Linked DNA regions of Homo sapiens: region 2 is linked to region 1. The links come from fine-mapping of genetic effects on gene expression. A gene starts in region 1. The other region holds a variant in brackets. All regions are shown on one strand. Distances are between the middles of the regions.

Region 1 (5,367 bases):
GAGGGAAAGGCCAGCATGTCCAGAAAGGGCCACAGATGGAGGGCACAGCTGGAAGGTCACATGCCACCCTCTGGGGGTAGGGGGGTGAGTGCTTGCTGGGCCCATCCCTGGATGTCTGGTCCTACCTAAGGCAAAGGCCGAGAAGTCTGGGGAGGCCCCACATTCCTTCTGCCTGGCCTCCATCTGGCTGCAGAGCCGAGCCAGGCGGCCTGACAAGTCGTGGGCTGGGAGGCGACAGAAGACACAAGCCTGGGCGGCTGCCAGGAAAACCCCGCCTAGTGCCAGCCTCCACATGAGGACCACTGGGGGATGGGGCGGCGCTGCCCCAGCTGAGCCGAGGAATGCTCTGCAGCCCTGGCTCCAGCCCTTGCCTGGAGGTTCTAGAATGTTCCAGAACAATGAACAATGGCACTGCCCATCCTCAGCTGGGGTAAAGCTGGGGCTCAAGGAACTGGGGTCCAGAAGGCATCTCCAGCAGGCGATGGGCAGAGAAAGCAGGGCTTCTGTTGTGAGGGGACAGCACCCCCAACCTGGCCCTCAACAGCCTTCACAAGTTTGTGGTTCCAAAAGCAGTTTTATTTTTCTTCTTGTAAATCATGACCAGTGAGAAATAATGTGTGCCCCACCCCCCACCAGTGAAGAAGCTGTGCGTGAGTATCCCACCCGCTCTGGGACCCAGAAATCCCATCCCTTCCCATCTCCTCCCCCACTGTCCCAAACTCTTCGTCTCCTCTCTCTGCCCTGGGCGGCCTTGGGCCTTCCCCAGCTATCTCCTAGCAACAGGTCCATGGTTGCCTCAGCAACCAAGAGTTCCATACAGGCCTCAGAGGCCCAGCTAAGCCCAGTGACTTCTCTTACCTCTCACCAGGAAGATCCCAGTGACTCAAACCCCAACAGGCCCCTCCTGGCTACGTGGTGATGCATATACATGCGTGCACATAAACACACACACACACACACACACACACACCCTGTGATTAAACTACTAATTGTCAACCACCTCACAGGTATACCACAGACACACCCTGTGCCAGAAGAGTCGCTAGGCAACCCCAAACAGGCCTGGACATGCGGACATCACAGACACTGTAGTCAGCAACACAGATATGAACCAGGATGCCAGGGACCTATACATCAGTCAGCCACACGGGCTGATATGCACGCACACATGAAGAAAGGCCAGGACCCACAGATACTACCCTCTTCCCCCTGGCCAGCCCTGCCATCAGTATGGGATTCTTCCAGATGAGGGATGCTCCAGCCCCATTGCCATGGGGACTGTCCTAGCTCCCATACATCAACCTAGGGTGGGTTGTGGCCTTTCTGCCTCCCTCAGTAGATGGCTTGGAACATAGCAAAGAACTCCTCTTCCGATGTTCCAGAGTGTTCTGGCCTCTCATTGGTCAGGCCAGGCCAGGCCACCCAGCTTCAGGAGTAGAAGCCATGGTCCAAGAGACCGCATTGGGAAAATGCAAAGTCCTCCCTTTTCCCCAGACCTCAATATCCTTCCAGGGTTTTGCTAGGTCTAGTCTGGGTAAAGAGATGTTCCCCCCTTTTCCAAGCCCTTAAACACTGAGCTCCAAATCAAGGAGAGACTGGAGGTGCTCAGCCTTAGGCAAGAACAAGCTGAGAGAACCTTCCCTACCCCTCCCAGGGTCAGCACAGGTTGAGACCTTCTGGACCACTTGTGAGTCCTTGGTGGGCTCAGGTTTGGGAATTCCTGCCCACATCTGAGCTCCAGTCAGGTGCAGGAGAGTCCCGACTCTCATAGCTCCTGAAGCAGAGCTGGAAAGAGGCTTCAGGGGTGCTAGTACCCCATTCTCTCTCCTCCCCACAGTCAAACTGAGAACAGCATCCTCAGTGCCGGACAAAGCGCAGAGACCTGGAGTTGAGCAGGTCTTCGGGGTCGGGGAAGACAGAGTCTAGTCGGAAGCCGTGCTCGAGAGCCACCCGCAGCACCTCCTCCAGGAAGCTTGGGGTGCCCACCACCTCCCGCCGCTCTCCTGGCCCCCCAGTCCACAGCGGCTGCAGCCCCAGTCTCCCATACTCCACCTCGGGGAGTTCCACGGGGCGGGGGGCCCACTCCAGATGAAAATGTGGGCTCCCCTCTGCCCTATCCCCACTGGCCACACCAAATCGGGCCCGCAAAGCACCTAGACACTCAGAGTCGGTGCAGAAAAGGTTGGCTCGGAAGGTGTCCACCTGGACGGAGCTCAGCTCATAGTGATGGGGTCCCCGGCGAGCAGAGAAGTGCACCAGGCGGGGGCTGACATCTACATCTGCGTGGAGCAGGGCAGCTGTGGGTGCAGGGGTCCCCTGAGAGGCCTCCAGTTCCCGCAGCGCGTCCAGGAGGGGCCGGATCTGGTAGAAGTCAGCCTCTGCCCTGAGCAGCGCTGTCTCTCCGTACCCACGGGGCAGGTCCAGGCGGCCCAGCCTCAGGAAATTGAGGATGTGCCGGAAGGCCTTGCCATCCCGGTCGATGAAGTAGTGGCCGCCTCCTTGGGAATTGAGGTTGGGGGGCATGGGGGTGCCGGCCCTAAACATGGCCCCCAGCATAGAGTCTGGGAAGCGGGTCAGGGTCTCCAAAGTGGTGGAATATAGTGTGCCCCCCACATTCAGGGTCACGGGGCCCCCAAAGGAGGGGGGCGAAGAGGGCACAGGAGGAGGAGAAATTTTGGGAAGTACAGGAGACACCGAAAGAAAAGAAAAGGCAGAACTTCCTGGGTGTGTGCAGAATTGGGTCGAAGCTGTCAGATTCGCTGGGTTGGAGGCACAGGTGGAGCACACCCAGTAAGGTTTGGGGCTCACCCCGGCTACTTTGGTGGTGGATGGGGAGGTGGTGTCAGGACACAGAAATCCCCAAAAGGTTGAGAGAAGAGATGAAAAGAGCAGAGGGCAGCCAGAGAGGGGAAGGGAGCTTGAGGTCTGGACGTATCCGATTTGGGGTGGTCAGCGACACCCCTCTGTGGTCTTCAGACAGTGGGTTTCCGGAATCCAACCAGCAGGTGACGGTGGCGAGCACAGGGCCGACTCTGAAGGGATGGCCTCCGAGACCCCGGGCAGATCGCTGCCGCCGTGGACGAGTCCAGCCAGGGCTCTGGGGCCACTCAGAGGCCTGGCCTGGCTGCCGGCGCGGGTCCCAGGAGATGGAGGCCGAACTGACGGGAGCGGATGGCGGAGCCCCCTTGTATCCGCCGGGGAGCGACGATGCGTGCTCAGCCCGGGCTGGGAGTGTCCGAGGGCTCTGATGGAAACAGCCAGGAGTTTCGGGACCCGGCCGCGCCGCCTTCCCTGGGTGTCGCCGCAGCCGCTGAGGTCCTCTCCGCCCCCAGGAAGTGGCCTAAGGGCAGCGGCCCGGGGCCCTTTAAGAGACAGCCCCGCCCCTTGGCGCCCCGCCCCCGCCCCCGCGAGGCTCGCGCGGCCCGGGCGGAGGTGGGAGGCTGGAGGCGAGTCTCGGACGCGAGAGACTGGGCGGACTGGCTGGACTGGCAGACGCTGGCGGGACGGGGTGACTCAGGCACGTCGCCCCGGATGTGGCCACGACCGCCCCGCCGCCGCTCAGGTGTGCCCGATCTCACGTCTGCAAGTCGGCGGGGCTGGAGCCTCTAATCCCACCGCTCAGAGCCCGAGGCCCGGCCGGCCCAGCCCGGGAGCCGAGTCCCTCCCAGCGGCTCCCCCGGGGAATTCCCGAGGGGGCGGGTGCTGAGCCGCCGCATTCCGGGGATGCCTTCCAGCCGGGGTGGCCCGGGCGCGCTCTCTCCGCGGCGGCGCGGGGCCAGCGAGCCCCAGGGCCAGCCCCACCCCTCGGCAGGACTGGGCTGGCCACGTCGCCCCAGCCCGAGAGCCCCCGCCCCGCAGCGCCCTGCGCTCAGGCCGCGGCCGAAGCTGCCGCCTCGCTCCCCGGAGTCGCACCTTGCTGGACTGGAGCTCGCAAACCCCCAGCTGCTCCCCGCACCTCGGGAGCCGCAGCGCCCAACACCCTACGGGCCCGAAGGTGGCGCCCAAGAAGTGAACCAGAAGGGAAGAGCGAAGCACGGAGGCTTTAATGGCAGAGGGCCCGGTGGCGGGGAAGGGAGGCAGGCGCGGGCCCCGTGGGCCTCGGGTCACAGCGTGTGGAGGTCATGACTGCGACGGCTCAGCTTCTCCGGGTCGTCTGACGCCATGAGGGAGAAGTCGCGGAAGATGTCAAGATACGTCTCATCTCCTGGGGGAGGGAGGAAAGGCCGGGAGGCGGCTGGGCCCCAGTGCAGAAGGGCAGGATCCGGCGGTTGGGGCCCACCTGGGGACCTCGCGCTCCGAGCCTGGGTGGGAACGTGCGCGCCGCGGGCACTGCGCCAGCACCTATGCCTTGCCAGGGCCTGGCACGTCGCATGCGCCCAATACGCATTTGTTAAATAACGGAATGAATGCAGCTGGGCACTAGGGAGAGAGGTCACCGTGGACCAGAAGCCCAGAGTTCAGGTGTTGGGCCTGGGGGGTGGGGTGGGTGTATTCTTTACCTGCCTGCCCCTGGGCCGCTTCAGCCTCCCTCATCTTTGCCAGTCGTAGCCTGAAGAGGAGGGAATTAAGAAATGAACGACACTATCTTTGGCCGGGCGCGGTGGCTCACGCCTGTAATCCCAACACTTTGGGAGGCCGAGGCAGGCGGATCACGAGGTCAGGAGATCGAGACCGTCCTGGCCAACATGGTGAAACCCCGTCTCTACTAAAAATACAAAAAATTAGCCGGGGGTGGTGGCGCACGCCTGTAGTCCCAGCTACTCAGGGGAGGCTGAGACAGGAGAATCGCTTGAACCCGGGAGGCGGGGGTTGCAGTGAGCCGAGATCGCGCCCCTGCACTCTAGCCTGGGCGACAGAGTGAGACTCCGTCTCAAAAAAAAAAAAAAAGACTATCCTCACCTCCCCCACAACTTCCCATCCTTTGAGCTGGGTTGCGTTCCGTTCATCTGCCCCCACCCCCGGGGTCACGTCTAGTGCTAAAAAGATGCCTGACAGCAATGTTGATGGGCGAATTACGCCTCTCAGGGTGGGCCAAGCATCCTTGCACCCTGCCCGCCCTCCCGCCTGCCTTCTACTCCACGTCCCAGTGCACACTTCGCGCAGCCTTTCTCGAGCCTGGCCCCGGCGCTGGCCCAGCCCCTTTCCGAGGCCCCACAGCACAGGCTTCTGTTTCGGCGTCAGCCCCGCCCGCCCGCCCGAACGTGGGTGGGCGGGGGTGGGGGGAGTCCCAGCGCCAGCCCCGCCCCTTCAGGCATTCTTACAGGGTGACGATGTCAGCGTTGGCTGTTTCCATGGCGATGGTCAGAGGGTCCCTGCCTTCAGAGTCTCGAGCCCCCAGATCAGCTCCCCGTTTCAGGAACAGGCAGG
Region 2 (5,367 bases), 25 kb before region 1:
ACTGTGAGAAGCCCCCTTCCCTTCTCCTCTGCTCGTCTTCCTTCACGTCTTTCCAGCCTTCTCCGAATAGCTTCCCAGCCCTCCCCAGACTTCACTCCTCTGTCTCTGTCCCCCATGCCCTCTCGCCAAATCCTTCACCTCTCAGCCAGGACCCTACCTCTTACATGAATAAGCGCCCGATAGAGCTATCCTGTCCACGCACAGGGAATATAAGGCTAAATAGGACACAGTTCCTGCCCCATGGCAGGGGGTTCAGAGCTTCCTAGCAGGCTTTACTTAATGAACCCTGGAATGGGGCCAGGGCAGAGAGATGTTGATGCTGGTACGGAGAGTTGGCCCTGGCCTAGACAGAGTCTACAGTTGAAGCTGTTGTTGATCACCGGCAGCATTCCATGCCTCAGGGCACGCTTCCCCATTACTGACACTCCTGGGCTTCCTTCCAGCGTAACGCCTGCTCTCCATGCAAGCTCTGCAGAACTCAGGGCCCTGCACACTGCTACCTAGCCTGTGGCCACTGGGACTAAGTCCAGGACCTTGAAGAAGGCCCTGAGGAGGACCATTTGTCTCCGCTTCTCTCAGGGGTCCCAGAGAGGAAGCTGCCAGTCTTAGGACATCTAGTCTGTCCCCTGTCCCAAGGAAGGACGCGTGAACATAGCAGCTGCTGTCCCAAGGGTCCCTTGGAGGGAAAAGCCCTCCTGGTCTTGGTAAACATGTAGGATGTTTGATCCCAACTGCCACCTCCACGTTTCCCAGCCTCGGGTCCTCTTCTTCCTCCTTGCTTATAATGTGGGGTAAGGGAGGGGTCCAGATGTCTGTAAGGGAAAGTGTGAGCAGGCAGCCAGTACCCAGAGACCCAGAGCCTTATTTAATAAAGGCTGGTGGAGTTGCCTTGAAACCAAGTTAGACCGAGTGACTCTCAGGCTGCCAGCAAGGATCTGTGCTTGGGGGCCAGTCCCTGTGTGGATCCTACGTGGGATAGGAAAATCTTCATAATGCTGTTCTATGGTATTGTTTTCTTGCCGATTCTTTTGCCCTCCAACCAGGATCGCTCATCACACTATAATTGTTACTGCACATCTGCGATCCCTGTTAGAGGTTCTGTAGCTCCACAGGGTAGGGGCTGGGCCTGGCTTGTTCATACTTGTGTTCTAAGTACCTAGGACAGTGTGGGCATATAATAGGCCTGATACATGTTGGTTGTAAAGAAGTCTCCTCAGTCTAATCCTCATTGTTGTGTAGATGATCTCTTTTTACTCCCTGCTTTTAAGATATCATTGGTGTTTTGTAGTTTTGTCACAATGTATCTAGATGTTTATTTATTCTATTTATTCTGCTCAATATGTTGTACTTCCTGTATGTATGAATTCACATCTTTTATCGTATTTTATCATATTGGAAAGTTCTCAGAAACCATCCAGATATTATTTTTCCTCTGTCCTCTGTGCTCTCTCCTTTGCCAACTCTGATTAGGAGTGTTCTAGACCTTTTCATTCTGTACTCTGTGTCTTTTAACCTGTCTCCTGTATCTTTCATCTCTTTGTGTCTTGGTGATACATTCAGGTAATCTCTTCCAGTCTGTCTTCCAGTTCACTAATTCTCTCTTTGGTTACATCTGATGTGCTGTTTAATCCTTACATGGAAGGGTTTTTTAATTTTATTTTTTGGTTGTTGTTATACTCATATGAAAATTACTCTACTTGGCCAGGCACAGTGGCTCACACCTGTAATCCTAGCACTTTGGGAGGCTGAGGCGGGTGGATCACGAGGTCAGGAGATGGAGACCATCCTGGCTAACACGGTGAAAACCCCGTCTCTACTAAAAATACACACACACAAAAAAATTAGCCGGGCCTGGTGGCAGGCGCCTGTAGTCCCAGCTACTCGGGAGGCTGAGGCAGGAGAATAGCGTGAACCCAGGAGGTGGAGCTTGCAGTGAGCCGAGATTGTGCCACTGCACTCCAGCCTGGGTGACAGAGAAAAAAAAAAAATTACTCTACTTTTTTTCCTTTTTTTGAGACAAGTCTCGCTCTGTAGCCCAGGCTGGAGTGCAGTGGTGCAATCTTGGCTCACTGCAACCTCCACCTCCCAGGTTCAAGCGATTCTTCTGCCTCAGCCTCCCAAGTAGCTGTGATTACAGGCACCCGCCATCATGCTGGTCTTGAATTCCTGACCTCAGGTGATCCGCCCACCTCAGCCTCCCAAAGTGTTGGGATTACAGGCGTGAGCCACCGTGCCCGGCCGAAAATTACTCTACTT[T/C]CTTTTCTTTTTTTTTTTTTTTTGAGACGGAGTTTCATTCTTTTGCCCAGGCTGGAGTACAGTGGCACGATCTCGGCTCACTGCAACCTCCGCCTTCCGGTTTCAAGCGATTCTCCTGCCTCAGCCTCTGGAGTAGCTGGGATTACAGCCGCACCACCACGCCCAGCTAATTTTTGTATTTTTAGTAGAGACAGGGTTTCACCATGTTGGCCAGGCTGGTCTCAAATTCCTGACCTTGTGATCTGCCCACCTCGGCCTCCCAAAGTGCTGGGATTACAGGCGTGGGCCATCATCATGCCTGGCCCTACTCTACTTTTCTTTTTCTTTCTTTCTCTTTCTTTCTTTCTTTCTTTCTTTCTTTCTTTCTTTCTCTCTTTCTTTCTCTCTCTCTTTCTTTCTTTCTTTTTTTTTTTTTTTGAGACAGAGTCTCTCTGTCGCCCAGGCTGGAGTGCAGTGGCACAATCTCGGCTTACTGCAACCTCCACCTCCCGGGTTCAAGCAGTTGCCTGCCTCAGCCTCCTGATTAGCTGGGACGACAGGCGCCTGCCACTATGCCTGGCTAATTTTTGTATTTTTTTAGTAGAGACGGGATTTCACCATATTGTCCAGGCTGGTCTTGAACTCCGGAACTCGTGATCCACCTGTCTCAGCCTCCCAAAGTGCTGGGAATCCAGGCATGAGCCACCGCGCCCGGCCCCTACTCTACTTCATTACACTATTTTACTGAGATATAATCTATAGTCAGTAACATGTACACATTTAACTGTATAATATGATGAATTTCAACAAATGTACACATCTATTAATGTGGCTAAAGATCCAGAACATTTCTTTCATCCCATAAAGTTCCCTTGTGTCTATTTTTAGTCAATTTCATCCCCCAGAAGGAACTACTACTCTGATTTTTAAAACCCAATGATCTGGCCGGGCGCGGTGGCTCACGCCTATAATCCCAGCACTTTGGGAGGCCGAGGCAGGTGGATCACCTGAGGTCAGGAGTTCAAGACCATCCTGGCCAACATGGTGAAACCCTGTCTCTACTAAAAATACAAAAATTAGCCAGGCATGGTGGCAGGCGCCTGTAATCCCAGCTACGTGGGAGGCTGGGGCAGGAGAATTGCTCCAACCTGGGAGGCAGAGGTTGCAGTAAGCCGAGATCATGCCACTGCACTCCAGCCTGGGCAACAGAGTGAGGCTTTGTCTCAAAAAAAAAAAAAAAAAAAAAAAATGCTGGGCTCGGTGGCTCAACCTGTAATCCCAGCACTTTGGGAGGCCGGGCGGATCATGAGGTGAAGAGATCGAGACCATCTTGGCCAACATGGTAAAAACCCATCTCTACTAAAAATACAAAAATTAGCTGGGCATGGTGGCATGTGCCTGTAATCCCAGCTACTTGGGAGGCTGAGGCAGGAGAATCACTTGAATCCAGGAGGCGGAGGCTGCAGTGAGCTGAGATTGCACCACTGCACTCCAGCCTGGTGACAGAGTAAGACTCCATTCACCCCGCCCCCACCCACACACACACAAAAAGGATTAAAAAAAAAAAAAACAATGATCACTTTACCTGCTCTAGATCTTATAAATGGAGTGCTTATTCAGTTTTTTTGTTTTTGGCTTATTTCACTCACCATAATCTTTTTGAGATTCATCTATGCTGTTGTGTATATTAGTAGTTATTTTTTATTATGAAGTAGTAGTTCATTATATAAATATATTACTTTTCAAATCTAGTATCCTAATGATGGATATATGAATTATTTTTATCCACTGGAGTTTTTTTTTTACAGCTTTATTGAGGTATAATTGACATTCAATAAACTGCCCATATTTAAAGCTTGTGATTTGATAAGTTTTGACAAATGTGTGCACTCATGAAACCATCACCATAACCACAGTAATGAACATATTGCCACCCCTAAAGTTTCCTTATGTCCCTTTGTAATCTCTTCTGCCCCTCGTTCCTCAGACAACCACTGATCTGTTTCTGTCACTCTAGACTAGCTTGCATTTCCTAGAAGTTTATGTAAATAGAATCCTACAGTATGCATTCTTTTTTGCCTGCCTTCTTTTACTCAGAATAACTATTTTGAGATTCATTCATGATATTGTATGTATCATCAGTATTCATCCCCTTTTAGTGCCGAGTAGTATTCCATTGTATGGATGTATCATAATTTGTTTATACATTCACCTGTTGATAAACATTTGGGTTGTTTCTAGTTTTCGCCCATTATGAATAAAGCTGCTGTGACCACTCTCTTTAAGTCTTTGTGTGGACATATGTTTCCCTTTGTCTTTGGTAAATACCTAGGAGTGGAATGTCTGGGTCATAAAATTAGTATGTTTAATTTTTTTTTTTTTTTTTGAGACAGAGTCTCGCTCTGTCGCCCAGGCTGGAGTGCAGTGGTGCCAACTCAGCTCACTGCAAGCTCAGCCTCCCGGGTTCATGCCGTTCTCCTGCCTCAGCCTCCCAAGTAGCTGGGACTACAGGTGCCCACCACCATGCCCAGCTAATTTTTTTTTGTATTTTTTAGTAGAGACGGGGTTTCATCATGTTAGCCAGGATGGTCTCGATCTCCTGACCTCATAATCCGCCTGCCTCGGCCTCCCAAAGTGCTGAGATTACAGGCGTGAGCCACCGCACCTGGCCAGGTATGTTTAATTTTTTAAGAAACCAAAAAAACTGTTTTCCAAAGTGGTTTTACCATTTCATTTCATTTATTTATTAAAATAAAAAAAGGTTTTTTTTGAGACGGAGTTTTGCTCTTGTTGCCCAGGCTGGAGTGCAGTGGTGCCATCTCGGCTCACTGCAACCTCTGCCTCCTGGGTTCAAGCGATTCTCCTGCCTCAGCCTCCTGAGTAGCTGCAATTACAGGTATGTGCCACCATGCCCAGCTAATTTTTTGTATTTTTAGTAGAGACGGGGTTTAATCATGTTGACCAGGCTGGTCTCGAACTCCTGACCTCAGGTGATCCACCCACCTCGGCCTCCCAAAGTGCAGGTGTCAGCCACCGTGCCTGGCCAAGAAAAAATTTTTTTGAGACAAAGTCTCACTCTGTCGCCCAGGCTGGAGTGAAGTGGTGCCATCTTGTCTCACTGCAACCTCCATC

What was found.
Region 2: its variant is fine-mapped to the expression of KCTD11 in whole blood (TOPMed, PIP 0.93).

What each region holds. Positions count from the first base shown.
Region 1 is chr17:7,350,132-7,355,498 of GRCh38, reverse strand. It overlaps KCTD11 (potassium channel tetramerization domain containing 11), which reads right to left and starts at 3,337. Exons shown (of 1, transcript NM_001363642.1): 1 at 555-3,337. The coding sequence starts at 2,673. The coding sequence ends at 1,858. It overlaps ACAP1 (ArfGAP with coiled-coil, ankyrin repeat and PH domains 1), which reads right to left. Exons shown (of 22, transcript NM_014716.4): 20 at 5,262-5,367; 21 at 4,500-4,549; 22 at 4,022-4,204. The coding sequence ends at 4,104. TMEM95 (transmembrane protein 95) reads right to left here and starts at 343. Exons shown (of 7, transcript NM_001320436.2): 1 at 126-343. The coding sequence starts at 294. RefSeq lists enhancers at 1-275, 276-802 and silencers at 3,259-4,028, 4,079-4,138, 4,209-4,268, 5,149-5,288.
Region 2 is chr17:7,375,538-7,380,904 of GRCh38, reverse strand. It overlaps a transcript of TNK1 not described here. Among named protein-coding and RNA genes, the nearest start is that of TNK1, 2.9 kb to the left of the region's middle. RefSeq lists an enhancer at 1-298. The variant T/C (reference allele first, on the strand shown) is at 2,257.